Homo sapiens: one gene and its partners. The gene in region 4 interacts genetically with the main gene of each other region. Each region holds a gene or a part of one and is shown on either strand. Other genes may lie near its edges. The genes, in order: DNAJB2, DNAI2, MTOR, SPPL3, KIF11, LETMD1 and TMEM38A.

Region 1 (4,933 bases), on a different chromosome or scaffold from region 4:
CTTTGTCCATTTAAAAATGTCATTGTCTTTCATTAGTTGGCATTTCTTTGTGGACAAAGGAAATTAAACCTTTGTCTGCTAGATGTGCTCCATATAATTTCCCTCAGTTGTCATTTGTCTATGTCCTATCCCCTTGAGCACAGAGATTGGAATTTAAACTTTTTTATATTCTTTTTCTTAATATAACAAGACATACACGGTAGGTGCTAGACAAATGTCTGTTGGCACAGCAGAGTAAGAAGAAAAAGGCAGAGATCTGGAAAATTTGGAGTGACTTAACCCAACCACTCCTTCCTCTTATACCAAGTCTAACCCTTAGTCTTTGTGTCAGTCAGGACTCTTATAAACAGCAGAAGCTAACTGGCAAATTGTTTCAAGTCCCCTGCCCCCAACAATTATAGAGATATCGGATAGCACACAGAATCAATGCAAGGGCCAGCAAACAAGGGTCAGCAATCAGACAGGCACCTAGGGAAGCTGGGCAGCCAGTACCACAGTCAAGGTTGGGCACAGGACAGCCTGTGTAGGAGACTCCTGTCCCCTCCACCCTCCGCAGTGATCCTCCTACTCTCGTCCCTCACCTGCGGCAGTAGCGCTGACACTTCCTCCTCCAGACACTAGAGGCCGCTGTTGGCCCCATCGCCTCCACCGCCGCCGCAGAAATGAATTCCTAAACCAGCCTTGCTATTCCGTGACTTGCTCCAGATTCAAAGTCCCAGTTGGAGCATCCGATTGGCGGAGCTCATGTCTTCTGCCTGCAACCCCAGAGCCGAGTCAGGGAGAGCAAGCATTGGGGCTTTGTGGCAAATGGTGGCCTGCTTTCCATTAGGGCCCTTGCGATGGGAATTCCCCAAATGTAGGCAGGAGGTTCTGATGGTGGGCAGCCAGGAAACCAGGACACTCACACCACCTTCTTCTCTCACGTCCGCCTCAAACCCTTCTCGTTGGCGAAGTATTCCTGGGTCCCCCAGCCTAAAGCACTTTTCTGGACTCACATAACCATTATTGCTTGAGCCAATCACGATGCCAGCAGGACCGCAGTAACACCTAATTCGTACCATGTCTCATTTGACTTTCAAACAACCCTAGGCACTACCTATATTTAGTGAGAAAAAAAGAGTGCTCAGAGATTTTCCCAAGTCTCACAGTAATGCCAGGTTGTACTCTGTTTCCAAAGCCTCGGGTTTCCCAGCGGGCTACACTGATGGGCTGGTATCTTATCAAGTTCAAGCTCTGCAAAGGCAGGGCTTGGGCCACATTCTTCTTTATACGGCCTGGCAGCATCTTGAATGCAGAAAAATGCTCAGCTAACGCCTTTGGATTGGCCTGGATGGGATCAAGCAGGAGCCAGTTCTGGAAGGTTTCCTAACTCTCCAATGAGGCCTGAACCCAGGGAGCATTTTGAAGTGGAATAGGCCTACTCAGGATCAGTTTGGGAAGACTTGAACCTGGGGAATTCCGTTGTACGGCCCCCTTTACCTCACCTCCCCCAAATGTGTCAAAACTGTCAACAAGAGGTTTGCAGGTGTTCATTATTTATTCATCCCACGGGTAGTTTTGAACCCCTACGACTGCTCTAATAGACCAGTGAGAAAAAACACACAATTCCTGTCCTGTGAAATCGACATTCTAGTGGGGGAGGTGAATGGTAATAAAAAATAATCAAACCAATAAATGCTAATTTGTGGCTCTAACAAGCCTGATGAAGGAAATGCCACGAGATGCTGTAAAAGGCAGTTCTGACCTACTCAGGAAAGCCAGGGCAGCCTGCTGGGGGACCTGGGGCTGGAGCTGGGAGCTGAAGAAGGGGGAGGAGTTAGAACCGTGGTGGGGGGAGGGAGGGAAGAGTCTGAGTCCTCGAGGTGGGTGAGTAAGCATGGATCATCGCTCATGTTTATAAGAAAGTGACAGAGGAACCTGGGGGCCGAGCGGCTTGTTTGTGGGCTGCCCCAGCCTCCGTGCGAGCGCTTCTCGCTTGGATGGAGGCGGGGCCGCAGTCTCCCAGGTCCCAGCTGGGGCTGACGTCGTCCTGGTGTGTGCCCAAAATAGCCGGCTCCGCCCTCTTCTCCCGGCAGCCCCTGCAGGCCCCCACCCCCCCAGGGGACAGGCGGAGCCGGCCTTCTCCCCGTCTCTAGTAGTTTCCGCACCGCTGACGCATGCCTGCGCGCACAGCTGGGCCGGGCGCGTCCTACGCAGCAGCCGCGAGCCGGGCTGCGGGTGCCAGACGGTTCCCGGCGGGGGGCAGGGGCGGGGCGCCGCAGGAGGCCGGGACTCCTGGCGGAGGAGGTGCGGCCGGGGGCCCGGGTCAGGCTGGGGGCCCTGGATCGGACTGCTGGAGTTGGGGGGCCCCGATAGGGCTCCTGGGCCTGGGCGTCGAGATAGCTCTTGGCCCCGGCCTGCGGGGGCAGATAAGGCTGCCGGAGGGAGCCTAGTCACCGGCCGCAAGCAGAGCCCGGTGTGCTCCGCTTCCAACTGGGAGCGCCTTCCGCCACCCGGGGAGGGGGACTGCTGCAGCCACAGGGTGGGGCTCTTGGTTCTTTCCGCCTGACTCCTTCTCTTCTGCAGCCCCAAGGAGGCCCGCCTGACGACTGACCAGTTGCCATGGCATCCTACTACGAGATCCTAGACGTGCCGCGAAGTGCGTCCGCTGATGACATCAAGAAGGCGTAAGTGCCTCCGTATGCAACAGAAGACCTCTCACCCTCCACCCGCCACCACCATGGGGCACTTCAGAGTGACACCTGTAGGTGTCTGAGGGAACCAGGTCGTTAGAAAGCACTGGGGTGCTTCTTCCGAGTGACACCTGCAGGGAGGAAAGAGACCCCTGGTAGAGTACAAGGAGAACGTCCAGAGAGTGAAGTAGTTAGTTCCTCTGGGAGCTGCACTGTGTTATGGGTTGTTCTCCAGTTGATCTTCCCCTCCTCCTCCTCCTCCTCCTCCTTTCCCCTCCCCTCCCCCTTCCCCCTAGATTTGGGCATTCTCAGGCTGCAGTGCAAAGATGCAGTGCAAAGAGGCTCTATGAGGAGGAGGGGCCGGTGTCCCTGTACTCTTCGAGGCCACATGTGCCCCAACCTTTGCAGCCCCAGTCCAGTGAGCCCTAGGGAGGGGCTAGGGACCCTGGCATTGTATCCGCTTGTACATGTGGTCCCAGCACTGGTGGCGGAGGAGAGAGGGTGGAACTTGATGAAAATATCACAGCAGCGGCAGCCCTAGCAGCTGGGGTGGACTGGGACCCGGGGGTGAAAGGACAGTGATAGGCTAATGGGAAAACAGGTCGTTCGGTTCCTGGGTGGGAAGTGCCTGCATTTGTCCCCCGACTCTCTCCTCTGCACCCACTTTCTGCAGGTATCGGCGCAAGGCTCTCCAGTGGCACCCAGACAAAAACCCAGATAATAAAGAGTTTGCTGAGAAGAAATTTAAGGAGGTGGCCGAGGCATATGAAGTGCTGTCTGACAGTAAGGGCCGGGGTCAGGCAGGACCCAGCACATCACCCCCTACTTCATGCCCCAGCTCACATTTTCTTAAAGCAATGTCTCTGCCACCTAGTTTCCTCTGTGCCTTTTTCCAGCCTGACATTTAAGCTCCCCCCTCCCACAGGGACAGCTCAGTGTCTGCTCCCCAGAGTCTGGTAGGAGTGGCTGGCATGAGACCTGAAAGGGGAAGGAAGCAGGGCAGGTAACTCATGTGAGCTGAGCCTCCTGCGTGCCAGGCATTGGTGGGTGTCATCTCCATGAGTTCTCACAGCCGTCCTATGAGGCAGGTTCTATCACCCCTATTTTACAGGCAAGGAAACTGAGGCTGAGAGAGGTGAAGTAACTTGCTCAAGGCCACGCAGAGCTGGAATATGAATCCAGGTCTGCCTTTTTATTGATTCATTCGAAAAGTAATTCAGTGAATGGTGACAGTGTCCGGCACTCGCTGGGTGCTGGGGAAACTGGAGGACAAGCAGGCACTGTCTTTGCCCAGAGGGGCAGGGAAGACCAACACCTACCAGGCACACACACAGACACAGTTACAGCTTGTGAAGAGTATTCCGAGGGAAGAAACAGGGCAGGTGGAGTGCTAGGGAATAATGTGCACTTGCTTTAGTTCTGGTGGTTGTAGAAGGCCTCTCCGAGAAGGTGACATTTAGGCTAAGCCCTGGTGAATAATAATGTAGTAATCATTAGCTAACATTTATTGAACACTTTCTATGTGTCAGGCACTGGTAGGCAGTTTACGTGGATGGTCTCATTTGATCTGTGCAACAACCCTGTGCGGTAGGTGTTGTGATGACAGCCATTTTCCAGATGAGAAGAGGCCAGCTGTGTGAAAGGCTGAGTTGCTGCCTAAACCTATAGCCCGTGTCCCCTGGGTCCCCTGCTGTGCCTGCTTTCCCCCGCCAAGTGTCAGAGTGTCAGTCTCTGGACAATCCTTTGAACGTCCTAGCCTGGGAGGGGAGCCCATCCCAGAGGGAGGGTGAAATGATCTGGTCTCTTTTTGCAGAGCACAAGCGGGAGATTTACGACCGCTATGGCCGGGAAGGGCTGACAGGGACAGGTAGGTGGAGTGGTGAGGCCCAGGAATGGAGGTGGGGCAGGGAGGAGAGGGGCAGGGCAGATTCTTGCAATGGAGGCTCTCTCAGGCTCCTGGCTGTGCCTTAGGTGAGGTCCCCCGCTCAGGGCAGGATGCATGCCCTAAGCTCTCTCCTCATCCTGCCTTTCCAGGAACTGGCCCATCTCGGGCAGAAGCTGGCAGTGGTGGGCCTGGCTTCACCTTCACCTTCCGCAGCCCCGAGGAGGTCTTCCGGGAATTCTTTGGGAGTGGAGACCCTTTTGCAGAGCTCTTTGGTGAGTGGACTCTGGAAGCCTCTGAATGGCTCAACTTCCCCCTCCAGGCCTGTCCTTCCATCAGCTGGGAGGCCCTGAGGTGGAAGGCTGAGAGGGGACGGGAA
Region 2 (4,454 bases), on a different chromosome or scaffold from region 4:
TGCATTGAATACACCTAACCTACCCAGCATCACATCTTAGTCCAGCCTATGTGCTCAGAACACTTATATTAGCCTATAGTTGGGCAAAATCACCTAGCACAAAGCTTATTTTATAATAAAGAGGTGAACAGCTCATGTAATTTTCTGAATACTGTACTGAGGGTGGAAAACAGAATGGTTGTATGGGTACTTGAAGTACGGTTTCTCCTGGATTTGCATTGCTTTTGCAGCCTTGCAAAGACAAAAAATGGTTTAAGTTGGGGACTGCCACAAAAAGTGGCACTCTGCACACCCTGTTCTGCACCGGCTTTGTTTTGGTTTGGTTTTCACATACTGAATCCTGGAAATGACTCCATATCAGCACATAAGAAGTTGCACTGCTTTTTTTTTTTTTTTGAGACAGAGTCTTGCTGTATTGCCCAGGCTGCAGTGCAGTGGTGCGATCTCGGCTCACTGCAACCTCCGCCTCCCAGGTTCAAGTGATTCTCCTGCCTCAGCATCCCGAGTAGCTGGGATTACAGGCATGTGCCACCACACCCAGTTAATTTTTGTATTTTTAGTAGAGACGGGGTTTTGCCATGTTGGCCAGGCTAGTCTTGAACTCCTGACCTCAGGTGATGCACCCGCCTTGGCCTCCCAAAGTGCTGGGATTACAGGCGTGAGCCACCATGCCCAGACTGCCCCGCTCGCTTTACCAGGTGCATGGCATTCCGTCGTGTGGGTGTGCCAGAACTGCTAGAACCAGTCCCCTATGGATGGACTTAGCTTGTTCTAGTCTTTGGCTGGCATACACCCTCTGCAGTGAATATCCACGCCTGCGGTGATTTCACACACACACACACACACAACCTGTGGGATGAATCCCTGGTGTCAAACTTCTATCCTCTGGAGTTATTCATGGATATACTCGCATGAGTGCAGGCCGCGGCGGGGGCCTGTGTGCCCACAGTGCTGCTAGCTGCTCATGCTTGGTACTTGTACTTACTCTGCCCTGCAGGAACATGCCCCACCTGTACGCAGCTGGGCAATTTCACTTTCTCTGGAGTCTGTACTCCCTTTCCATCAACCAGACCCGCCCCCAGAGCAGGGCCACTTCTCTGCTGGGTGACTTATCACCACGTCACTTATCAAGCTCAGAGCACAGACAGTGCTGCACCCAGGGCATGCAGCGATGGCAAGGAGTTGCCTTTGGAGGCGCCCATGCATGGGGGTGACGGAGGGTGGCCAGACACCTGCCTGGCTATGGCGCTACCTGAACACATTGATGGTTTTAGCTGAAGGGTCCTCCTCCATCACTTCCATGGCCTCCTCGTCATTGAAATACTCTTCATAGATGTCAATGGCATTGTTCTGCTTGATGCAGTGCTCCATGATCTAGGGGGGACACATTGGAAGTTCTCCGCAGTAAATGGAGGTCCTTTCAGATTGCCCAGGCCTGCAATGGAGTCTGGGAGGGACAGGACATAGCCAGGGGCTTTTCCCATCCACCTAACCATGTGCTTTCAATGGAGGAATTTTCAATTGGTTCCTGGGGGTAAAATAATATTGCTTTTTAGGTACAAAGCATGGAAATACATGCAGCGCATGAACAGATATACAGTATGTCTATAGCATTAACATTTGATGGGCTGGGTGCGGTGGCTCACGCCTGTAATCCCAGCACTTTGGGAGGCCGAAGCGGGTGGATCACTTGAGGTCAGGAGTTTGAGACCAGCCCGGCCAACATAGTAAAACCCCATCTCTACCAAAAATACAAAAGAAAATTAGCTGGGCATGGTGGCAGCCGCCTGTAATCCCAGCTACTTGGGAGGCTGAGGCAGGAGAATTGCTTGAACCCGGGAGGTGGAGATTGCAGAGACCCAAGATCACGCCACTGCACTCAAGCCTGGGTGACAGAATGAGACTCTGTCTCAACAACAACAAACATTTTATGGAGGCAGAAGGCCATTAGAAAAAACATGAAGGCCAATAATGAAGAAAAGGTTGAAGAACACCATGCTAGACAAACAAAATTATTATTATTATTATTATTATTATTATTATTATTATTATTTTGAGACACAGTCTTGCTCTGCTGCCCAGGTTAGAGTGCAGGGGTGCGATCTGGACTCACTGCAGCTTCCGTCTCTCGGGTTCAAGCAATTCTCCTGCCTCGGCCTCCTAAGTAGCTGGGACTACAGGCATGTGCCACCACACCTGGCTAATTTTTGTATTTTTAGTAGAGATGGGGTTTTGCTATGTTGGCCAGGCTGGTCTCAAACTCCTGAGCTCGAGTGATCTGCCTGCCTCTGCCTCCCAAAGTGCTGGGATTACAGGTGTGAGCCACCAAGCCCAGCCCAAATAAAATTATTAATCTCTCTCTCTCTCTCTCTCTCTCTCTATATATATATATGTGTGTGTGTGTATATGGCACTCATCTCCTTCTTCCTGTCCTTGCAGACAGCTGGTTCCTCCATCCAGAATGCCCTCCCCTTTATTGCAAATGTCCACCAAAGGACAACCAAGCCCTGCCACTTCTTCCAGGAAGCCTTCCCTGTTCCCTTCAGCAGGAGATTGACCCTCCCTCCTCATGGAGTCAAAGGACAAGTCATGCTTCTCTTTCAGCATTTCTTTCTTTTTATGTTATCTGGTGATGTCTCTGTATTTGTCTTTGACCTCCAATGGACTGCAATCTCTTTGGGACAGGATGTATAAGAGATTCTTTTTCTTTTAATTTAAATTTTAAATTTCTTTTTCCTTAAAACAATTTTTTTTTTTTGCACTGGCAAGTATGTAGAACAATTATGAGATTCATTTTGCAACCTCTACTGTGCCTGGCAGAGGCTTGAAGTTCAGTCCAAATTTGTCAAATGAATGAATGATCCCTATTGGCTGCTGGGTGGGGCACTTTGGGAGTCACCTTTGCCCAAGGTCAGACTCCTCCTGATGCCTGGTCAGCCCTTGTACCTCCCTGCCTTCCCTGTTGGTCTGTGATTGGGACCTCTGCCTGCTCCCAGACAGAAGGCTCCTTGAGGTAGCAGCTGGTCCCCTTCCCCCCAGCATTCACACGAGCCTCACAGCGATGGCCAGGCACAGCTGGGGCAGTGCATCCCTTGGGGAGCTGCAGTGATGGATGGGGCTCTTGCAGCTGGGGCAGGAGGAAGCCTTACAGAGCCGAGCTGCATGATGGCGTTAACGTAGTTCTCATCTTTCTCCACTTTCTTCCGGAAACGGATGGTCTGCTCCAGCTCCAGGGGGTTCACGTCCTTGGGCCAGCCCCCCTCGACATGGTTAACTCCCCGGGTCTCCATCTCAAACCGCTCTGAGTTGGCCTAAACAGAGAGCCGCAGGAGGGAAGACGTCACCCTGGTATACTCCCAAACCCTCGGCCACTTCTGCAAGCCAGGTCCCACGGGGGCTCCCAGGGCTGGATGCTGAGGCGCCCTGGCCGGAGCCACAGTATTTTCAAATGCAGGCAAGGAAATTCCTGGTGATCAGGTGGGCACAGGTAGCTGCAACAGCGCAACCCTGTGGAGCTAAGCAGCTTTGCAACTGGTAGCTGTGGTCATGAAAATCCTGTTCTGACCTTATCTGAATTCTAATGGACCAGAGAAGCCTGTCCATCTGCTCTGTGAGAATCCAAAGAAAAGGTGAATAATTGGCCGGGTGCAGTGGCTCACACCTGTAATCCCAGCACTTTGGGAGGCCGAGGCGAGCAGATCACGAGGTCAGGAGATCGAGACCGTCCTCGCTAACACGGTGAAACCCCGTCTCTACTAAAAATACAAAACATTAGCCGGGCGTGGTGGTGGGCGCCTGTAGTCCCAGCTACTCGGGAGGCTGAGGCAGGAGAATCACTTGAACCTGGGAGGCAGAGGTTGCAGTGAGCCGAGATCACAGCACTACACTCCAGCCTGGGCGACAGAGCGAGACTCCGTCTCAAAAAAAAAGAAAAAGAAAAAAGAAAAAGTGAATAGCCTTTCTTCACTCTATCATTAACAATGCCACCCTATCACTGACAATGTCAGTGTCACAAAAATTGAACGTTAAAACTCCAAGTTTGGATTTGCTTTGCCTATCCTCTCTAGCAGGGAGGACAGTTTTACACGTGGGTGTCGCCACTTTCCCTTCTTTCCTTTTTTTTTTTTTTAAGAGAGGGTCTCTCACTCTGTTGCCCAGGCTGGAGTGCAGTGGCATGATCTTGACTCACTACAGCTTTTTTTTTTTTTTTTTGAAAAGGAGTTTCGCTCTTGTTGCCCAGGCTGGAATGCAATGGCGGAATCTCGGCTCACTGCAACCTTCGCCTCCTGGATTCAAGTGAGTCTCCTGCTTCAGCCTCCCCAGTAGCTGGGATTACAGGTGCTCGCCATCATGGCCGGCTAATTTTTGTATTTTTAGTAGAGACGGGGTTTCACCATGTTGGCCAGGCTGGTTTTGAACTCCTGACCTCAGGTGATCCACTGGCCTCAGCCTCT
Region 3 (4,213 bases), on a different chromosome or scaffold from region 4:
TGCTCTCAAACCCTGTCTCCTGATAAGATGTTATCAATGACAAAGCGTGCCCAAAACTTCGTTAGCAATATTAATTTTGCCCCGGTCCTGTGATCTTGCCCTGCCTCCACTGCCTTGTGATATTCTATTACCTTGTGAAGCACGTGATCTCTGTGACCCACACCCTATTCGTACACTCCCTCCCCTTTTGAAAATCACTAATAAAAACTTGCTGGTTTTATGGCTCAGGGGGGCATCATGGAACCTGCCAACATGTGATGTCTCCTCTGGACACCCAGCTTTAAAATTTCTCTTTTGTACTCTGTCCCTTTTCTCAGACCGGCTGACACTTAGGGAATATAGAAAAGAACCTATGTGAAATATCGGGGGTGAATTTCCCCCAATATACAAATATTAGTTGGCGGTGGGGGTGCTCATCTGCAGTCCCAGCTAATTGGGAGGCTGAGGCGGGAAGATCACCTGAGCCCAGGGGGCCGAGGCTGCAGTGAGCCATGACTGTGCCACTGCAGTTCAGCCTGGGTGACAGAGCGAGACCCAGTCTCCAACAAAAACAAAAACAAAAAACACCACTCAGATACTACTCCGTTTTAAAACTTCACAGCATCAGGTTCATACTCCTTGCTGCTGAACTGAGGGAGGCCCCGGTCTGGCCCCGGCCCCGTACTGCTTTCCTGCCTCCTTTAGTTCCTATTATTTTCCTGTTACTCCCTTTATTCCCCACTGACCACTGAGCCAGACATGCTGAACTATGAGGTGCAGCCATAAGAAAATGCCAGTTTTGTATATTAAAAATGGTCCACGTACCTGTGATTTCAAATGGTCCAACTGATACTTGCCACTGCTATGGATACCTTGCTTTTACAGCAGTGCCTCACACTTCCTTTTCTGCTGAGAATGCCCCCCCCTTGGTTCATCTGACAGACTCCCACCCCTCTTTAAGACCCATGCCAAATGTCCCCCTTTCTATGGGGCTTTCCAGGCTCACCCGGTGGAATACACGCTCCTACCTGTGGCCCATACATGCCTCTTCTCAGCACTTGGCCGGGGTAAGTTCTGTTCACTTCAGTGGCATGCTGTCTCCACCTGTCTGGCCTGGGAACAGTCTGAGGAAAGGGACCATGTCACGTACACCCTTACGTCCTCTGTCATCCCTACTACAGAGTGTTTACTGAAGGCTGAGTGCTGAAGAGAGTAAATGCTTCCTTTTTGAACTGATCAAAATTATGACTAAAACGCCACTCATATACATATGTTTAAAATTCTGATGTCATTTATTGGCACAAAAATTATTCTGATACAACATGGTGTCTAGACATGGCTACACTTTATACTTTGTGCATTTAGTTGAGTATTTGTTCTGCTCATAATTTCCAATATGTACCAGACCTTCCCTGTGTTCAGCACCTCCATGACAGTATTTCTGTTTTCTGAGCCCTTGCTCTAAACAGAGTATTTTGACCACTGAAAACATCCCAGAACCCTGCTGCAGAAGGCCAGTGAGGGTGGTCCCACTGCACAGTGATCCCCTCTGTGCATCTGCTCAGCCGAGGCTGCCAGCGATCTGAATAAACCTCCCTACTAGCGGTCAGGTCTTGAATTGAAGCGTGTGAGTCGCAGCATCACTGGGTCTGATGGAAGACAGACCTTTTGTACTCATTTTGGCCTATCTTGCAAACATTTCTGCTGCTGTCCACAGACCAGTGAGGTCTTGGGATAGGTGGCAGGGGTGAGGTCAGCATCTTCTGTGTCTTTACAGTCTAGGATCCTAATCCATGTTCTCCACGACCTGAGGCTTCTTGGCTGTGCTGAGTTTGCTGTACCCATGTTGAGAGGAGCAACTAGGTCATTCTTCCATCAGCAAGTACTTATGATGAGTTCTCTTGTGAGTTAAGTCAAAACCCGTATTTCTAAAGTTATGGATCTTCTGTTCCCCAAAATGAATGGCTTGATTTACGTGGTATTACTATGTTTCACTGTCCTGGGAACCAAATCAAGCCTTGTGTTTCTGACAATATATTCTTCAACAGCAGCTAGAAAGTTGGTTCAAACCAACTTTTAATATACAGTAGTTCTTTTCATTTACATTTCAAAATATTTAACAAAGTCAAACTTTCTCACCATGGTTTCAGTTTAGTGGAAGCATTTACTAAAGTACAAAAGCCTCAGAAAAAACGTGATGGGCACATCTGGGCCTCCAGTTACCAGAAAGGGCACCTAAGAAGGCAGAAAGAAAAGGAATATTTTAATAATTTGAGCTTCTTCAAAGGTTTACACAGATAACTTGAAAATGAAAAGGCCAAGGTCTGACAACCCTAGGGTATTCCCTGAGCTCTCCCACAGCTAATTGCATGGGACACACTCATCATTTCCAGTCAAGGCTAATGCCCACCGAGGTCCCGCAAGGACACTTCCCCAGCGCCCGCTCTCTCAAGTTTCTGCCTTCAAGCATGCCTTGGGCAATTAATCAAAGCACACCCCAGAGTGGCCCTTGAGGTTAGACTCCCAGATCATAAATCTGTCTTTTTATCTCCTTCTCTCTGTCACTGCTCTAGCTTTTTCTTTCCTTCGCCCTTCCTGTATCTCTGCACTGGACTGACAGCAAAACCCAAAAGGAACCCCTCACAAACAAACAAGCCTTGCCTATTCTCCTGAACCACTTATCTTAATGTAATTTTAATTTTAGTGTTTGCCTTCCAAGTATGCATCCATATTTCTCAGTTTCTTTTTTTATAACAATGGGCACATGCAGTAAATATGAATTTTTAAAGAGATCTGAGCTCTAACTGCCCTTTACAGATACCTCACCAAATCTCTTTTTGCTACTCTGGCTTTGGGGCCTAGGCTTGGGACCTGATTGCTTATTTTAACAAAGTCACTTTGAGAGCCCCACTCACCAGCCAATATAGCACTGGCAGAGGTTTTCATGGGATGTCGCTTGTTTGATGAGCAGCTCAACTTGCGTTGGAACATCCAAAGTGTCATCATGAGAGAAGTCCCGACCTAGCACAGGAGGAACAAAAACATTTCACTCTCTTCCTGGCAATCGATGCACTTCTTGTTCCCTGTGGGCTTAACTGTCTATGCCAACAGCTTATCGTCAGACATGAAGATGAAGGATACCATCATAGTTGGATTTGAAAAGTTTGGCCAGGTGCGGTGGCTCACGCCTGTAATCCCAGCACTTTAGGAGGCTGAGGCAGGCAGATCACCTGAGGTCAGGAGTTCAACACCAGCCTGGCCAACATGGTGAAACCCTGTCTTTACTAAAAATACAAAATTAGCCGAGTGTGGTGGCACATGCCTGTAGTCCCAGCTACTTGGGAGCCTGAGGCAGGAGAATCACTTGAACCTGGAAGGTGGAGGTTGCAGTGGGCCAAGATCGCACCACTGCACTCCAGCCTGGGTGACAGAGCAAGACCCTGTCTCAAAAAAAAAAAAAAAAAAGAAAAGAAAAAAAGAAAAATTCGGCCGGGTGCGGTGGGTGAATCACTTGAGGTCAGGAGTTTGAGACCAGCCTGCCCAACATGGTGAAACCCCATCTCTACTAAAAACACAAAAAATTAGCTGGGCGTGCACCTGTAATCCCAGCTACTCGGGAGGCTGAGGCAGGAGAATTGTTTGAACCTGGGAGGCAGAGGTTGCAGTGAGCCAAGATGGAGCCACTGAACTCCAGACTGGGCAATAAGAGCAAAACTGTCTCAAACAAACAAAAAAAAGACATGATTAAAAAACACTTCTCTGAATTTGGCTGATTTTGGACCCAAAAGAAATTTATTCACCTCCTGAGTTAAATGAGATTAAACTAACATTAAGTACTGTTATCAGTCATCAGAAAGAAGAATCAGAGACAATGTTTAACTGATGACCTCAAAGACACTCTTTGTCAGCTGCATGGTGCCAAAGCTCGTCACTAACACCACTGGACATGGGGCTGACCACCACTCAGAGAGGAAAGTGTGCTCAGATTTTATGTCCCTTTTAAGTAAACACATGACACACTCACCAGTGAGCTTATCTCGAACCCTGTTAATAATCTGGATAGCTTTCTTATTTAGGGCCTCTGGTTTCACCAAACCGTCTCCAACTGGAATACACAAAAGTAGAAATAACTGTAAGAATGGGAGCAATACAACAGGTTCAATGGGTGCCCTGTTTTTCTCAAATATTCACTTTTGTAAGTGTTAAGCAATCCTTCCTCTATGTCCGTCTTTGT
Region 4 (3,175 bases):
TGCACTGTAATAACAGCAATGGAACACACTAGGCTTTGGACAGACTTTACTGTCATATCTTCATTAGCTCAAACTAGAAAAAAGAGTTATTAAAAAGCGGGAGTTCTAGTAACACACAGTCTCTTTGTGAGGAAAAAGGACTTCAGATCAGTGAGGAAGGAATCTGCTGAAATTTCATGAGCATGCCATGCCTAATGCAGCAGACTTCCTAGAAAACCCCTAAACCATGGTATTTGAGAAAACAGAATAAGAGGCGGACCTAAGTGTATCAGGCAGCGGGGAGCAAACGAGCACTGGAAGGGAAGTCTAATGTGTGCTTTAACTGCAGCCACCCACTCAACCCTCCGAGACGAGTAGAGTATTTGCTGTTTCTCTGCCAAAGTTTTAAGGGAGTGTTTTAAGGGCTTTGAAGATTAGCAACTGGAATCCAGGGTGCATTCACAGCCCTGTGTGGGTATTTCCCCCCAAAACCTGCACAGAAGTGAGAATGACAAAATAACGACGTTCCTTCTGTCTGGAATTTAATTTTCTTATGAAAACAAAGACAGAAAAATTAAAATGACCCACTGCCAGGATAACATTTCCTTTTTTTTTTTTTTTTTGAGATGGAGTCTCACCCTGTCGCCCAGACTTGAGTGCAGTGGCGCAATCTCTGCTCACTGCAACCTCCGCCTTCCAGGTTCAAGCGATTCTTCTGCCTCAGCCTCCCAAATAGCTGGGATTACAGGCGCCTGCCACCATGCCCAGCTAATTTTTGTGTTTTTAGTAGAGACGGGGTTTCACCATGTTGGCCAGGCTGGTCTCGAGCTCCCAACCTTGTGATCCACCTGCCTCGGCCTCCCAAAGTGCTGGGATTACAGGCATGAAGGATAACGTTATTTCTACCCATCACTGGCACTTGCCCTTAATCCGAGTCATTTTGGAGCCCCCCTCTCTGTCTCTGGGCCTGCTTAATTAGCTATATGCATCCTCGAGGGCTGAGAAGGAAGGAAGGGAGAGTCCGCAAGTGGATTTTTAGTCTTCACCCAATGCAGAGGCAGTTTTGAGTTCTGTGGACAGCAGAAGCTTCAGTTCTTTGATGTATCTATGACTGGGCCAGAGCTGCAGATGACCAGGTCTGGGGACAGACAGAGTCTTCCCATCAGTCTTCCAGAACAGGGAGGAGATGGCTGGGAGCTCTGTTTGGTACCAACAACCAAAGTGAAGATTATGTGACAAAGGCTACAAAGGAGTCATTTATTAAAAACAAAACCCCAGAAACCCCTCAGCAGGAATTGATGACAACAACAGAGGAATCCAACACCCTGACTGCTTCAGACTCTGTTGACAACAGGATGGGTGCCCCCTGTGAGCTCGATCCACAGTGACTTCAAGCCACAGTGACACAGCACACTAATTCATTACACAGGTCAAGACAGAGGCAGCCACTGGGGCGGGGACCCTTGGGGAGAGGCTGGAACTCAGGGCCCTTCTCCAGCCTTTGTTGTCAGGCATCCTCATGCCAACCGCAGGCTTCTCTTTGCCTCTGAACAATGGGCACCTTCTTACCAGGCAGGGGCTGCTTAGGTAAAGGTCAGCAGACCTAACACTAGTTACTCCCAGAAATCTGGGCTTGCAGCAGAGACCACAGCACAGGGCCAGGCTCTCAGGACACAGCAGCTGGTTCTTTCCCCAGTTACTGGAATTTAGGGCCCATCTCAGAGGGGCATTTGACATGTGTCCCCAACACCCGGTTGTCACCACAGGTAAACCAAGACTATAATCACAACAGCAAGGACAGGATTGTGTTGCTTTTTTCCTTTTTTTTTTTCTTAAAGGAGTGAGGGCATGGAAAATATACAGCACACCAATGAAACAAAATGTCAAAAAAAAAAATACAAAAAAATAGAAAATAGAAAAATGTATTTACAAGTAGTACGTTACTATGATGAGAAAGCACAAAGACACCTGCTGCTATAATACATGCATTGGCTCGAGAAGAAACTACGGAACACCCTGCGAGGGAGAAGCCTAGAAAAGAAAGAAAGGGCCAAAAGGTTTGAACTCTTCATCCCTAATTTGCTACACTGATCAAAACCAAGTAAGGGCTCCTGAAGTCCATGAGTCTATCATCAATCAGCACAAATGCTATACTAGTTTGTAACTGCGGGGTCAGTTGTGAAGGGGAAGGACAGCAGCTTATCCATATACAAGGAAGCCACAGTAAACTGCTCGACATGCTCAAAACGACAGCAAGCCCCTGTCAGCTACACAGCGTGATCTTAGCAGGATTTCATTTTTGTTTATTCATATATATCTATGTGTGTGTTTATATATATATATGTACGTATGTATAAAAACCGTGCCCTTGTTCACTGCCAACACAACATCTGGGTGGACATGAACTCATTACAACAAATTCTTATGTGGATGTTGTAAGAAGTCACTCAATGTCTGTGGATTTAATAAGTCACTTCACACCACAGAAAATATTTAATAAATCCAAAAAAAGGAAAGAAGAATATAACGACAGAAGAGCTTCTGTCTCAGTTCTCTGAAACTGAGTCCCCTATAGGAAACTGGTCCCAAAGTTCTCGAGGGGTCATTGAAGAAACTTCGGTTTGCTAATTTTTTTCATCCTTTTAGTGTTCAAAAGTTCTAGAAAGACTCCTCGCTGTTTTCAGTTTTTAAACAGTCAAATCTCCATCTCCCCCAGAAGGTAACAGTCTGGTGCAGATCCATAAAAACGTGGGAGGAAGGCGCGCTGGGGAGAGGCCTGTCCCTCTTGGAAGGGGCCCCACCTCTACATCCGCAGGAAGAGAAGGAACCAAACAGGGCTCCAGCACCTCTCTCCTGCAAACGAGCTCCCTTTAAATGCCAAATCCAGTCACACGGCAGTTCCTTAAACACAGGTACATTTCTGAGTACCAGGCCAGCTCTAAGAGGAAACAAACCATGAGTTGAGAGAAAAGGACTATGACGGCCATCTGGTCACTTTCCACGTGATCCATCATACTTCCAGGAATCGGGAGCTGCTGGACTTGGAGTGGAAAGGCTCAGACCACATCCGCCGGAGGTCGCCCTGGGAAACAAGGGACTTTCTAAGTTACAGATTTAAACATGAGGCACACACAGCTGTCTGATTCTTTAAAAAAAAAAAATTTTTTTTCCAGGTATGAAGTCTTCCTATATATTG
Region 5 (4,454 bases), on a different chromosome or scaffold from region 4:
AAGCTGAGGTGGGTGAATCACTTGAGGTCAGGAGTTTGAGATCAGCCTGGCCAACATAGTAAAAACCCATCACTATTAAAAATACAAAAATTAGGCCAGGCACAGTGGCTCACACCTGTAATCCTAGCACTTTGGGAGGCCAAGGTGGGCAGATCACTTGAGGTCAGAAGTTCGAAACTAGCCCTGGCCAATATGGTGAAACCTCATCTCTACTAAAAATACAAAAATTAGCCAGAAATCACTTGAACCTGGGAGATGGAGGCTGCAGTGAGCCGAGACTGTGCCACTACACTCCAGCCTGGGTGAAAGAGTGAGACTCCATCTCAAAAAAAAAAAAATTAGCCAGGCATGGTGGCAGCCACCTACAGTCCCAGCTACTTGGGAGGCTGAAGTGGAGGTTGCGGTGAGCCAAGAATGCGCCACTGCACTCCAGGCCTGGGCAACAGAGCGAGACTCTGTCTCAAAAAAAAAAAAAAAAAAAGAAAAGAAAAGAAAGCAGTTTAAGGGGGATAGGAAGTGTTGAGGGTGGAAGATAGTTGGTTGCTATTTTAGGGTAGTTAGGGAATGCTTCTACGCAGGTGATATTTAAGCAGAACCTAAAAAGCAAGGGAGCCAGGCCCTGTAGATATTTTGGTGGAAAAAATTTTCAGGCAGAGAGAACAGAAATTGCAAAGATTCTGAAGTAAAAGCAGGTAGATGTATTTTTTAAATGTGTGTGTGAAATTAGCCAGGCGTGGTGGCAGGCGCCTGTAATCCCAGCTACTCTGGAGGCTGAGACAGGAGAATCGCTTGAACCGGGAGGCAGAGGTTGCAGTGAGCCGAGATCGCGCCATTGCACCCCAGCCTGGGCAACAAGAGCGAAACTCAGTCTCAAAACAAACAAAAAACCACACACACACACACACACACACACACACACGTGTGTGTGTGTGTGTGTTTAAGTAACCAGGGTTCAAAGACATCACAAGGAAAATTAGAAAATTTTAGAGATTAATGAAAATGAAAATACAACATACCAAAACTTACGGGACACAGCAAAAGCAGTGCTAAGGGGGAAATTTATAGCTATGAATGCTTACATTAAAAAGCAAGAAAGATCTCATATCAACACCCTAACTTTACAACTTAAGGAACTGGAAACAAAAGAACTAGTTATTTGTGTCTTCTCTCTTATTGTTGAAAGAGTATTTTCAACAATTGTATGCCAACAAATCGGATAACCCAGCTGAACAAATTCCTAGAAACACAATACTTACAAAGACTAAATCACAAAGAAATGGAAATTCTGAATGGAGCTATAACCAGTAAAGAGATGGACTCACTAACCAAAAATCTCCTGACAAAGAAAAGCCCTAGATCTGATAGTTTCATAGGTGAATTCTATAAAACATTTCAAGAAGATCTAATACCAGTTCTTCTCAATCTTTTCCCAGAAAAAATCTGGCAAAGGAGAGAACACTTCCCAACTCATTTTGTGAGGCAAGCATTACCCTGATACCAAAGCCAGACAAAGGCAACTACAAGAAAACTACAGATCACTATCCCTTATGAACACTGATAAAAAAAAATCCTCAACAAAATACCAACACATTGAACTGAGCAGCACAAGGATTATACACCATGACCAAGTGGGATTTATTCCTGGAATACAGGGATGGTCCAACATGTAAAAATTGATCAATGTAATATACCACATTAACAGAATGAAGGAAACCACAGAATCATGTCAATCGATGCAGGAAAAGCATGTGACAAAATTCAAAACCCATTAGTCATAAAAATGCTCAACAAACTAGGAATAGAGTGAAACTACCTCAACAAAATAAAAGCAACATATGAAAAACCCACAGCAAACATAATTGATGGTCAAAGACTGAAGAATGTTCCTCTAAAAACAAGAACAGGGCCAGCACAGTGGTTCATGCCTGTAATCACAGCACTATGGGAGGGTAAGAGTAGAGGATCACCCGAAGCCAGGAGTTCAGGATCAGCATGGGAAACATAGCGAGACCCCATCTCTAAAAAAAAAAAAAAAATTATTTTTTTAATTAGCTGGGTGTAGTAGTGTGTCTATAGTCCCAGCTACTCAGGAAACTGAGGCAGGAGGATCTCAAACAAACTAACAAATAAAAGAACAGGAGCAAGACAAGGATGCCCAATGCCCACTTTTGCCACTTCCATTCGACATAATACTGTAAGTTCTAGCTAGAGTAATTAGGCAAGAAAGAAAAACAAGGGCCGGGCATGGTGGCTCACGCCTGTAATCCCAGCACTTTGGAAGGCTGAGGCAGGCGGATCGCGAGGTCAGGAGATCGAGACCAGCCTGGCTAAAACGGCGAAACCCCGTCTCTACTAAAAATACGAGAAAAAAAAAAAATTAGCTGTTTATGGTGGCACATGCCTGTAGTACAAGCTACTCGGAAGGCTGAGGCAGGAGAATCGTTTGAACCCAGGAGGCGTAGGTTGCAGTGAGCAGAGATTGCACCACTGCATTCCAGCCTGGGCAACAGAGCGAGACTCCATCTCAAAAAAAAAAGGAAGAAAAATAAAAATAAAAGGCATCCAAATTGAAAAGGAAAAGGTTGAGGGCCAAGAGCGGTGGCTCATGCCTGTAATCCCAGCACTTTGGGAGGCCAAGGCGGATGGATCACGAGGTCAGGAGTTCAAGACCAGCCTAGCCAAGATGATGAACTCCCATCTCTACTAAAAATACAAAAATTAGCTGGGCGTGGTGGCATGTGCATGTAATCCCAGCTACTTGGGAGGCTGAGGCAGAGAACTGCTTGAACCCAGGAGGCAGAGGTAACAGTAAGCAGAGATGGCGCCACCGCGCTCCAGCCTGGGCGACAGAGCGAGACTCCATCTCAAAAAAAGAAAAAAAGAAAGAAAAGGAAAAAGTAAAATTATCTGTCTGCAGATTATATGATCTTTTATATAGAAAATCTGGCCGGGCGTGGTGGCTCACACCTATAATCCCAGTACTTCAGGAACCCCAAGGGGACTTGAGGTCAGGAGTTTGAGACCAGCCTTGCCAACATAGTGAAACCCTGTCTCTACTAAAACTACAAAAACTTAGCTAGGCATGGGCGCATGCCTGTAGTCCCAGCTACTCGGGAGGCTGAGGCAGGAGAATCGCTTGAACCCAGGAGGCAGAGGTTGCAATGAGCCAAGATTGTGCCACTGCACTCCAGCCTGGTGACAGAGCGAGAGTCTGTCTCAAAAGAAAAAAAAATAGAAAAGAAAGAAAACCCTAAAATTCAGTGGGGCAAAAGGAGCTAGAGCATCAAGAAGAATAGCTAGTGGATGCTGGGCTTAATAGCTAGGTGATGGGTTGATCTGTGCAGCAAACTGTGATGGCACAGGTTTACCTATGTGATAAACCTGCACATCATGCACATGTACCCCAGAACTTAAAAGTTGATGAAAAAAATAATAAAAATAAGGCCAAGTGCAGTGGCTCACGCCTGTAATCCCAACACTTTGGGAGGCCGAAGCGGGCGGATCACGAGGTCAGGAGTTCAAGACCAGCCTGACCAACATGATGAAACCCTATCTCTACTAAAAATACAAAAATTGGCCGGGCATGGTGGCGAGCGCCTATAATCCCAGCTACTCCGGAGGCTGAGGCACAGAATTGCTTGAACCCGGGAGGCGGAGGTTGCAGTGAGCCGAGATCACACCACTGCACTCCCGCCTGGGCAACAGACCGAGATTTCATCTCAAAAAATAATAAATAAATAAATAATAATAATAATAATAAACAGAAGTTCAATAGTTAATTAAAAAAAAAAAAAAGCCAGGCACAGTGGCTCACGGCTGTAATCCCAGAACTTTGGGAGGCTGAGGCAGGTGGATCACGAGGTCAAGAGATCGAGACCATCCTGGCCAACATGGTGAAACCCCGTCTCTACTAAAAATACAAAAATTAGCTGGGCGTCGTAGCGTGTGCCTGTAGTCCCAGCTACTCGGGAGGCTGAGGCAGGAGAATTGCTTGAACCTGGGAGGTAGAGGTTGCAGTGAGCCGAGATCGCGCCACTGCACTCCAGCCTGGCAACAAAGCGAGACTCCATCTCAAAAAAAAAAAAAGAAAAGAAAACTCTAAAATTACACACACACAAAAAAAAACTGTTAGAACTAATAAGTGAATTCAGCAAAGTAGCTGGATAGAAAGTCAACAAGCAAAATCCAGCGACGTTTCTTTTTTCTTTTTTTTTTTTTTTGAGACAGAGTCTCACTCTGTTGCCCAGGCTGGAGTACAGTGGCACGATCTTGGCTCACCACAACCTCCACCTTCCAGGTTCAAGCGATTCTCCTGCCTCAGCCTCCTAAGTAGCTGGGACTACAGGCACGCGCCACGATGCATGGCTAATTTTTGTATTTTTAGTAGAGACAGGGTTTCACTATGTTGGCCAGGCTGGCCTTGAACTCCTGATCTCGTGATCAGGAGTTGGGAG
Region 6 (3,552 bases), about 70 Mb from region 4:
ACTTTTTTTTTTTTTTTTTTTTTGAGACAGAATCTCATTCTGTCGCCCAGACTGGAGTGCAGTGTCGTAATCTCGGCTCACTGCAAGCTCCGCCTCCCGGGTTCACGCCATTCTCCTGCCTCAGCCTCCTGAGTAGCTGGGACTACAGGCGCCCACCACCACGCCTGGCTAATTTTTTGCTATTTTAGTTGAGACGGGGTTTCACCGTGTTAGCCAGGATGGTCTTGATCTCCTGACCTTGTGATCCGCTCGCCTCAGCCTCCCAAAGTGCTGGGATTACAGGCGTGAGCCGCCGCGCCCGGCCTCATTCCATTAACTTTATGAAATTCTCTTTTCCTTGTTATCACCTTAAAGTGTCCAGCAAGGAGATCAACTTCAAATCAGTTTCTGCAAAACTTCCATCCCATCAGAAGGTTCTATGCCAACCAATTAAATCCCCATTTGTTAGATTATGTCAGTCTTGTAAAAGGAGACAGCAAAATGATTAGAGTATGCATAAGTCATTTCCATCAACAGGTTTCAAGCAGTCTTTACTTGGGTTTAAAAACAGTGCTTCATGCATTTACAATAAGTTATTACAGAACTCTAAGTCACTGATGCACACACAAAAGCTAAACCCAACTTACTAACTATGCAGACCTCTCCTGATCTCCCCAGGCTGGGCAGTAATTAGTACCTTACAGGTGTGATCCATGGCCCAGAGAAGGCAGCCACTGTCAGTTACAGTTGGACTGCTGCATCACAGTGGAGGCAGCAGAGTTGAAGATCCACAGAGGGCTGTAATACAGCCCAGAAAAGACAATGGAGAGTGAAGGCTAGAAACATTGAGGAAGGGGTCAAGAAGCACTTGTACTTCCTGTTATCTTTTCCAATAGAATATTCCTGCAAGTTACCCATCAGAAAAAGGTGTTCAGAGGGTTTGAAAAAGAAGTGGTTAGCCCATGCCAGTGAAGGTGACAAAAAACAAAACAACTTGATTTTTGGTCATATCAGAAAGGATGGAGGGAAACACCCAAGTACATGCACGGACACATGTGCTCCAGCCAAAGGAGTGCTGTTTTCACCAGCCACAAATTTTCTAACAGCAACAACAAAAACCCACAGATGTAAGTAACATGGAAGTGGATCAGTCCTAAGCCAAATAAGGATTCCCACCTGGGGCAAAAGCTGACTTCCTAGGACATGAACTGAACACATCACAGTAAAAGCCCAGTAGAGGCTGCTGCCAGTTCCAGCTATTAGTAATTATGAGGGGGACAGGATGACACCTCACACGGACCACCCCTAGCAAGAGGGTTTGTTTCAGTTCTAGCTGTGAGAGGAATGTCTGCAGTTCCCACATGTGTGCCATGCTGTGAAGCCCATGGCCCCTGCTCCTCTCTCTGCCTCCCACACACTTAACAGTACACACAGACTTTGCTGGCAAGTGCTGTTTGTTCCTGCACTGCTATACTATACGACTGCAGGACAATGCCATCCGCTCCATGGTTCATTCAGCGCCTTGTCCCAAGGTAGTTGGTGGAGAGCAGGACCACGTTGTGCAGCAAGAGAGACAGCTCAGCTTCTGAAAACACAGTGTTAGTGGTTTGGCTTGGGAACACTGCCTTATAACTGCCTTGTTATATATGGCTTAAGCCTGGAGGCAGGAAGCCAAGTGCAGGGAGGGGTGGAATGAAGAAGCTGTTTTTCTCAAAGTTCCCCTTCTTTGTTTCAGCCCCTGTATGCATGCCTTCCTTTCCTTCTACTATATATTCGTATCAACTCATCCTCTATTTCTCATGTGATTGCAGTAGAAAATTCAGAGATGGTAATGGTACTAAACACCAGTCGCGTTGGGATTCTTCTGGTAGAAGTTGGTGCTCTAGGGACATTTCTCAGCTTCAAGATTAGTAGGCCTACCCTAACATCCAAAGGCCCACAAAACATCAAGACCTAGCCTAAACAGGGGGCAAACAAGCCTAATACATACCCTCAGATGCTTTGTGTTTGGTCAGCAGACTGTTTTTTTTCTGAGTTTGAATGCCTTTAGACCAGTACTTCTCAACGGGGACAATCCTGCCTCTCTCCTCCCCACCCCTAGGACATTTGGCAATGTCTAGAGACATTTTTGGTTGAGACAACTGTGGGTGAAGGGGTGCTACTGGCATCTAGTGGGTAGAGGCTAGGGATACTGCTATAATAAATACCTATAAAGAACAGGATAGGCTGGACATGGTGGCTCACGCCAGTGATCCCAAAACTTTGGGAGGCCGAGGCCAGCGGATCACCTGAGGTCGGGAGTTCGAGATCAGCCTGACCAACATGGAGAAACCTGGTCTCTACTAAAAAAAAATACGAAATTAGCTGGGCGTGGTGGTGCATGCCTGTAATCCCAGCTACTTGGGAGGCTGAGACAGGAGAATCACTTGAACCCAGGAGGCAGAGGTTACGGTGAGCCGAGATCGCACCATTGCACTCCAGCCTGGGCAACAAGAGCGAAACCCCGTCTCAAAATAAATAAATAAATAAATAAATAAAGCACAGGATATTCCCCCCATAAGGAAGTGCCAAGGTTGGAAAATTCACACTAGCATGCATTCACTCTTAGGTTTCCACAGTCCCCACTACTCCCTCTTGTCTTATGGCCTACTTCGTTACCTGCCGGGCATGCAGTAGGCATGTGAGTTTGTGCCCTTTCAATTAGATGTATGTATATATATGTCTCACAGTACTCAATAATTAACTCCAAAATGACCTCAGAATAAAATACAAAAGTGACTTGGATTTTAGTGGTATAACCACAGAAATGTGTTTTACCTTTCAGGCTGCAGGAAATCTGCAGCCATTCTCCCAGCCAAGTTCGACACCTATCTTCACCAATATGCGTAGAATTCAGGCCACGGAGATAACAAGCCTATACCACTCAGAACAGAAATGGTCCTTAATAATCATAGAATGATTATGCCAAGGAAATGGAAATCCACAAACAATCCTAAATCTCCTTTAAATAAGTTACAATCTCACCGGGCACGGTGGCTCGTGCCTGTAATCCCAGCACTTTGGGAGGCCGAGGTAGGCGGATCACGAGGTCAGGAGTTGGAGACCAGCCTGGCCAATATGGTGAAACACCATCTCTACTAAAAAATACAAAAATTAGCCAGGCGTGGTGGCATGCACCTGCAGTCCCAGCTACTCGGGAGGCTGAGGCAGGAGAATCACTGGAACCTGGGAGGCGGAGGTTGCAGTGAGCCAAGATCATGCCACTGCACTCCAGCCTGGGCAACAGAGCGAGACTCTGTCTCAAAAAAAAAAAAAAAAGTTACAATCTCATTCCCACATGAAGCCTTTCCTCATGGCAATTTGAAAACTAGTGATGGACAAGATGACAAAAGCAAAGAGTCCTATATAAGCTAAAATAGTAGGTCTAAACTGCAGTATCCTTGCTTTCTGAAGTGCCAGAAGAAAAGAAATACAAACCAAAATTTCTGTGGGCAATTCCTTCCCCCTAGCTAAGTTTCTTGAGAAAAAAGACACAGAAATGAGGTGAGGAGCTGGGCGCAGTGGCTCATGCCT
Region 7 (5,112 bases), on a different chromosome or scaffold from region 4:
TTCTGAGAAGAAAATTTACAGATACCCAGCACGCACACCAAACTGGGACTAACAGTTCAATCCGACACCTCACTTTTCTTTTCTTTCTTTCTTTTTTCCAAGACAGAGTCTCAGCCAGGCTCTGTCACCCAGGCTGGAGTGCAGCAGCGAGATTTCGGCTCACTGCAACCTCCGTCTCCTGGATTCAAGCTATTCTCATGTCTCAGCCTCCCAAGTACCTGGGATTACAGGCGTGCGCCACCACACCTGGCTATTTTTTTGCATTTGTAGTGGAGACGGGGTTTTGTCATGTTGCCCAGGCTGGTTTCAAAGTCCTGGGCTCAAGTGATCCACCCGCCTCGCCTCCCAAAGTGCTGGGATTACAGGCATAAGCCATCACATCTGGCCTCCAACACCTTTCTTTTCTAAGGAAACCAATCTCACATCAATTGTACTGATTCTTAGAGTCAAGCAGACCTGGGCTGAGTCCCGAGGCTGCAACTGACCAGCCATGGGACCACAGGCTCATTGTGTATTTAAGATAGCTTAGCCACTATTTCCTGTTTCCCCAGTTATGAAAGGAGGAGGTTGAACTGGGTGGAGTATCCTCAGCCCTGATAACAGACATCAGTCACTGAGGGAGGGGAGATTAATATTCTGATTCAATTGGTGGGGGGTGGAGATAGGGGGTTTAAAAGCTCCTAGGAGGCCGGGCGCAGTGGCTCACACCTGTAATCCCAGCACTTTGGGAGGCCGAGGCAGGCGGATCACAAGGTCAGGAAATCGAGACCATCCTGGCTAATACGGTGAAACCCTGTCTCTACTAAAAATACAAAAAAAAAAAAAATTAGCCGGGCATGGTGGTGGGCGCCTGTAGTCCCAGCTACTTGGGAGGCTGAGGCAGGAGAATGGTGTGAACCCAGGAGGCGGAGCTTGCAGTGAGCAGAGGCGGCGCCACCGCACTCCAGCCTGGGCGACAGAGCGAGACTCCGTTTCAAAAAAAAAAAAGAAAAGAAAAAAAGCTCCCAGGAGCGTCTCATGAATTCATGAATAGCCAGGGTTTGGAACCACTTCTCAGCCTTCAGGAACCTTCAGGCTCTGGCACTTAGAGCCTGGATGGCTTATTCTAGGACTTCTGCAGAAATATCTTGAACCTTCCTGCAAGTTCCCAGGCAGCTTGGAGACCTCTTTTCTCAAGACATTTGTGTCCTACATTCCCACAGGGCTCCAACCCTCCTCAGTTTCAGATTTTTTTTTTTTTCGAGACAGAGTCTTGCTCTGTCGCCCAGGCTGGAGTGCAATGGCGTGATCTCGGCTCACTGCAACCTCCGCCTCCCAGGTTCAAGTGATTCTCCTGCCTCAGCCTCCCAAGCAGCTAGGATTACAAGCATGTGCCACCATGCCTGGCTAATTTTTTTATTTTCAGTAGAGACGGGGTTTCTCCATGTTGGCCAGGCTGGTCTCGAACTCCTGACCTCAGGCGATCTGCCCGTCTTGGCCTCCCAAAGTGCTGGGATTACAGGCGTGAGCCACTGTGCCCAGCCAGTTTCAGATTTTCTAAGGTTCTGCAACTGCCCAAGGAACTGGCCTGAACCACCAAGAATTCTTCCCCAGAAAGGAAAGATAGCCCCATGTTCATGCTAGGACAACACAAAAGCCTATTTTGTTTTGCAAAGTAATGTTCTCCAGGATAGCTTTTAAGAAAATAGGCTCTGGCATGTGGATAGGCAAAAATAGAATAAAAATTCCTAGCAAATAGAGTGTAATCCTGTTAGCATAAGAGCGTGCATTGGCTGGGTGCAGTGGCTCACGTCTGTAATCCCAGCACTTTGGGAGGCCTAGGTGGGTGGATCACAAGGTCAGGAGATCGAGACTATCCTGGCCAACATGGTGAAGGCTTGTCTCTACTAAAAATACAAAAATTAGCCAAGTGTAGTGGCGGGTGCCTGTAGTCCCAGCTACTCAGAAGGCTGAGGCAGGAGAATCGCTTGAACCTGGAAGGTGGAGGTTGCAGTGAGCCGAGATCACGCCACTGCACTCCAGCCTGGGCGACAGAGCGAAACTCCATCTAAAAAAAAAACCGCAAAAAAAAAAAAAAAAAAAAAAGCGTGCATTTACGTTTATAACTATATAGCCGTAAATGAATAGAAGAGACATCAAGAAAGGTGGCTGGCCACCAGTATGTTGACAGTAATTCTCTTTTTTTCCTTTGCCCTTTTCAGTTTGAGTTTTTAGTAAACAGGGGCGCTTATTTTTATCCTCTGAGAATAAAGCTATTTCCTTTCTGAGCTATAGTGGTAATTTACATCTAAGTGGGAGAAAGGCTTATGAAGTTTGGGGTTCCTTTATTTTTCTAAGCCTAAAATCTATTATCTAGTAAGTTGCTGGTGTTCTAGAATAACGGTGAACAAGAAACATTTAAACATTTGTTCACGGTGAACCTTTTATAAAAATAGAACACGTTCTAAGGAAGCCATTCATCCTCATTTTAAAAATTAAGAAGCAGGCTGTACCCTCCTGTGACCTCCCCAGCGTGGAGTCTGGAGCTGAGATGGAGGACACTGACCCCAAGTCACCCAGCCTTGGGGCCGGTTCTGCTCCGTAAGTGGAAAGGATCTGGAGCCAGGGCTGGAAGAATTCCCGTGGGGGCTCGGAGATTCAGCACCGTGGGGGAAGGGAGGGGAGTGGAGGGTGCTGGGCAGTTGCAGTGGGGAGGAGAACCGGTGTCACTTTCGCTGAACCTGACCGCAGCCCCCAGCGCAGTGGCCCTTATAGACACTCCGCTGGCGCTCTCAATCCGCGTGCCAAGGTCAAGGAGGGAGGTCACACCTGCGCGCGGCCAGAACAGATGCACCGACCCCCACCTGCACCCTCGCCACAGCCGGCGCCCCTTGCCCAAGTTCCTGCAGCTCTGACCCAACCAGGAGCCCCGACCCCAAGCACCTGTTCCCCCTCCTCTAAACCCGCGCACGCCTCTCCTTCCCCTCCCCCAGCTTCATCGTCCTGGGGGCTTCTCCCCCGGGCTCACCCCGGCGTGAGAGAACCCCACGATTCTAGCGCCTGCCTACTCCCACGATGCAATCCTTGAACCTGTCCCTCGCTCCCTCCACCACGCACGGGCTTCCCCTCTCTGCGACCCCCGAGCTGCCCCGGCCCGCGCCACCCGCTGCCGGTCCCCTCCAGCCCCCCGCCCCGGCTCACCTGGCTCATACTTGAGGTAGAGGATGGAGACGATGAAGTAACTGAGGTCGAAGACGGGGAAGAGCGGCACCCGCGAGAAGCTGAGCGCCAGTTCGCCCAGGCTCAGCGCCGAGAGCAGCTCCATGGCGCCCGCCTGCCCGCCTGCCGGGTGCCACCCGGGGCCCCGGCCTCGTCCGTCCCGCCGCCCGCGGCCCGGCGACTGCGCCCCCGCAGCTGGGCCCGCCCCCGCCCGCCAGGCGCCACCCCAGGCCCGGCCCCCGCGGGAGAGGAGGGGCGACGGCCCACCCCGGGACAGGTGGTGGGGACGCCCAGCACCACGGACGCAGCTGGACGGTCGGGCGTCCCAGGCGTTGACCCTCCTGCCATCGCTACCCCGTTCCGCCCAGCGAGGCGGGGTGCGGGGCACCCGTGCAAGGCGAGGGAGGCTGGGGAGCTGCCTGTTCTGGGGGCCCGTCCCTCACGGAGCCCACCCACGCGGGACGCCCGTTCCCAGGGGGCCGGATCGGCCAGGACTTTGTCCCCGTGGGCTCAATTAGGACCCCGATCTTCGGTGGAGCCCAGTGAGGACCCCTACGCCATGGTGGGACCCCATGAATCAGAACCCCTGTTCCCCGTGGAGATAGGTTAGGACCTCGGTCCTCTGTGGAGCCCCGTCAAGACTTTTCTGCCCCATAGGGTCCGTTCGATCAGGAACCCCGTCTCCGGTGGGGCTCTGCAAATCAGGACGTCTTGTGGGGGGCAGCTCAGTGGGAACCCCCGTTCCCCATGGGGCCCAGGAGGATCTCATTTTAGAGCCCAGTTGGTTGGGGCACCCGTTTCTAGGGACCCCACTGCGTCAGGACCCCGCACCCTGTGCAGCTCAGGAGTCAAAGGATTCCTTTTGTCCAGAAGCCCAATTTGGGACCCCAGAAAGTGAGTAGGAATTGCTGCCCAGCTAACCCTACGGCATCGAGACCTCACGCATGCGCGGCACGCTTCGAACGCGTGACCCAATCCCGCCCCCAGGAGACCCCGCTCCTCCCATTCTGGCTCTCGGGGCCTCCCCAGCGAGGTGGGGCGCTCGCGCTCCCCTAAGGGGGTCTGGCCTGCAGAGGGCGGGACCCTCCCAGCCTTGACCTTCGATTGGCCCAGCCCTCGCCACTGTTGCTTTAGGATTGGTCGGCTTGTGCTCCTCTCCCCTCCCTCCCTGGGGCTTCCGCTTCCGGTTCTGACGGACGCTTCGGCCGTAACGATGATCGGAGACATCCTGCTGTTCGGGTAATTAGGGGGACCAGAGGCTGGGAAGAGAGAGCCAGGCAGGACGCGGGGGCGCCCCTAGTAACTGTAATTCTCCCTCTGCAGGACGTTGCTGATGAATGCCGGGGCGGTGCTGAACTTTAAGCTGTGAGTAGGTCGCGGCCGGACTGCGGCTCCATCCGGGGAACCCGTAGCCCCGCCCTCATAAGCGTGATCTCGGCGCACTTCTCAGGCCCCGCCCCCAAGCCGCAGGCCCCGCCCTATCCGCCCTCTGGGCACGCCTCCAGCCTGGTTTATCTTCCTCGCCCCCCACCCCCCGAGAGACCTTAAACCCATACTCTCCGTTCCTTGGTTGTCCCTCTGTTCACCTTCCTGGAGAGCTTAAGCCCCATCCCCCAAGAAATAGCCCCACCGCGGACCTTCCGCCCTGCACCCGCACTGTCGGGCCACTTTGTAAACGGTCGGTGGCTGCTGACCTGGCTGTGATTGTCCGGGCAGTGGGGGCCCAGAGAAGGGTATTGAACGTCAGAGGTCACACAGCAAGTTTGCGGCAGGGCCAGGGCTGAAACTTAGTGTTTGTGGCCTTCTGAGCTGGGGGTCAGGGGGCTGAGGACTCTATGTCCCATTGAAAGTGGACACTGTCTGCTCCTCTTTGTAGGAAAAAGAAGGACACGCAGGGCTTTGGGGAGGAGTCCA

Evidence for each region.
Region 1: changes in SPPL3 (region 4) and DNAJB2 together harm fitness less than expected from each alone (positive genetic interaction), as found in Homo sapiens cells (one large-scale study listed by BioGRID).
Region 2: changes in SPPL3 (region 4) and DNAI2 together harm fitness less than expected from each alone (positive genetic interaction), as found in Homo sapiens cells (one large-scale study listed by BioGRID).
Region 3: changes in SPPL3 (region 4) and MTOR together harm fitness less than expected from each alone (positive genetic interaction), as found in Homo sapiens cells (one large-scale study listed by BioGRID).
Region 5: changes in SPPL3 (region 4) and KIF11 together harm fitness less than expected from each alone (positive genetic interaction), as found in Homo sapiens cells (one large-scale study listed by BioGRID).
Region 6: changes in SPPL3 (region 4) and LETMD1 together harm fitness less than expected from each alone (positive genetic interaction), as found in Homo sapiens cells (one large-scale study listed by BioGRID).
Region 7: changes in SPPL3 (region 4) and TMEM38A together harm fitness less than expected from each alone (positive genetic interaction), as found in Homo sapiens cells (one large-scale study listed by BioGRID).

The regions. Positions count from the first base shown.
Region 1 is NC_000002.12:219,277,233-219,282,165, forward strand, and holds the start of DNAJB2 (dnaJ homolog subfamily B member 2), read left to right. Parts: upstream 1-2,133; 5' UTR 2,134-2,286; intron 2,287-2,565; 5' UTR 2,566-2,601; coding exon 2,602-2,666; intron 2,667-3,345; coding exon 3,346-3,455; intron 3,456-4,485; coding exon 4,486-4,539; intron 4,540-4,706; coding exon 4,707-4,829; intron 4,830-4,933. UniProt on the Homo sapiens protein: Functions as a co-chaperone, regulating the substrate binding and activating the ATPase activity of chaperones of the HSP70/heat shock protein 70 family. In parallel, also contributes to the ubiquitin-dependent proteasomal degradation of misfolded proteins.
Region 2 is NC_000017.11:74,283,897-74,288,350, reverse strand, and holds part of DNAI2 (dynein axonemal intermediate chain 2), read right to left. Parts: intron 3,312-4,454; coding exon 3,150-3,311; intron 1,375-3,149; coding exon 1,253-1,374; intron 1-1,252. UniProt on the Homo sapiens protein: Part of the dynein complex of respiratory cilia.
Region 3 is NC_000001.11:11,105,287-11,109,499, forward strand, and holds the end of MTOR (serine/threonine-protein kinase mTOR), read right to left. Parts: intron 4,085-4,213; coding exon 4,004-4,084; intron 3,001-4,003; coding exon 2,895-3,000; intron 2,215-2,894; coding exon 2,199-2,214; 3' UTR 1,249-2,198; downstream 1-1,248. UniProt on the Homo sapiens protein: Serine/threonine protein kinase which is a central regulator of cellular metabolism, growth and survival in response to hormones, growth factors, nutrients, energy and stress signals.
Region 4 is NC_000012.12:120,762,010-120,765,184, forward strand, and holds the end of SPPL3 (signal peptide peptidase-like 3), read right to left. Parts: intron 3,062-3,175; coding exon 2,990-3,061; 3' UTR 501-2,989; downstream 1-500.
Region 5 is NC_000010.11:92,599,291-92,603,744, reverse strand, and holds part of KIF11 (kinesin-like protein KIF11), read right to left. Parts: intron 1-4,454. UniProt on the Homo sapiens protein: Motor protein required for establishing a bipolar spindle and thus contributing to chromosome congression during mitosis. Required in non-mitotic cells for transport of secretory proteins from the Golgi complex to the cell surface.
Region 6 is NC_000012.12:51,057,373-51,060,924, reverse strand, and holds the end of LETMD1 (LETM1 domain-containing protein 1), read right to left. Parts: intron 2,920-3,552; coding exon of another isoform or gene 2,894-2,919; coding exon 2,797-2,893; intron 2,322-2,796; exon of another isoform or gene 2,187-2,321; intron 1,565-2,186; coding exon 1,494-1,564; coding exon of another isoform or gene 1,490-1,493; 3' UTR 501-1,489; downstream 1-500. UniProt on the Homo sapiens protein: Plays an essential role for mitochondrial structure and function, as well as thermogenesis of brown adipocytes.
Region 7 is NC_000019.10:16,659,410-16,664,521, reverse strand, and holds the start of TMEM38A (trimeric intracellular cation channel type A), read right to left. Parts: upstream 3,384-5,112; 5' UTR 3,305-3,383; coding exon 3,181-3,304; intron 1-3,180. Other genes in the region: SMIM7 (small integral membrane protein 7 isoform 1 precursor), read left to right, coding at 4,412-4,437, 4,522-4,563, 5,075-5,112. UniProt on the Homo sapiens protein: Intracellular monovalent cation channel required for maintenance of rapid intracellular calcium release. Acts as a potassium counter-ion channel that functions in synchronization with calcium release from intracellular stores.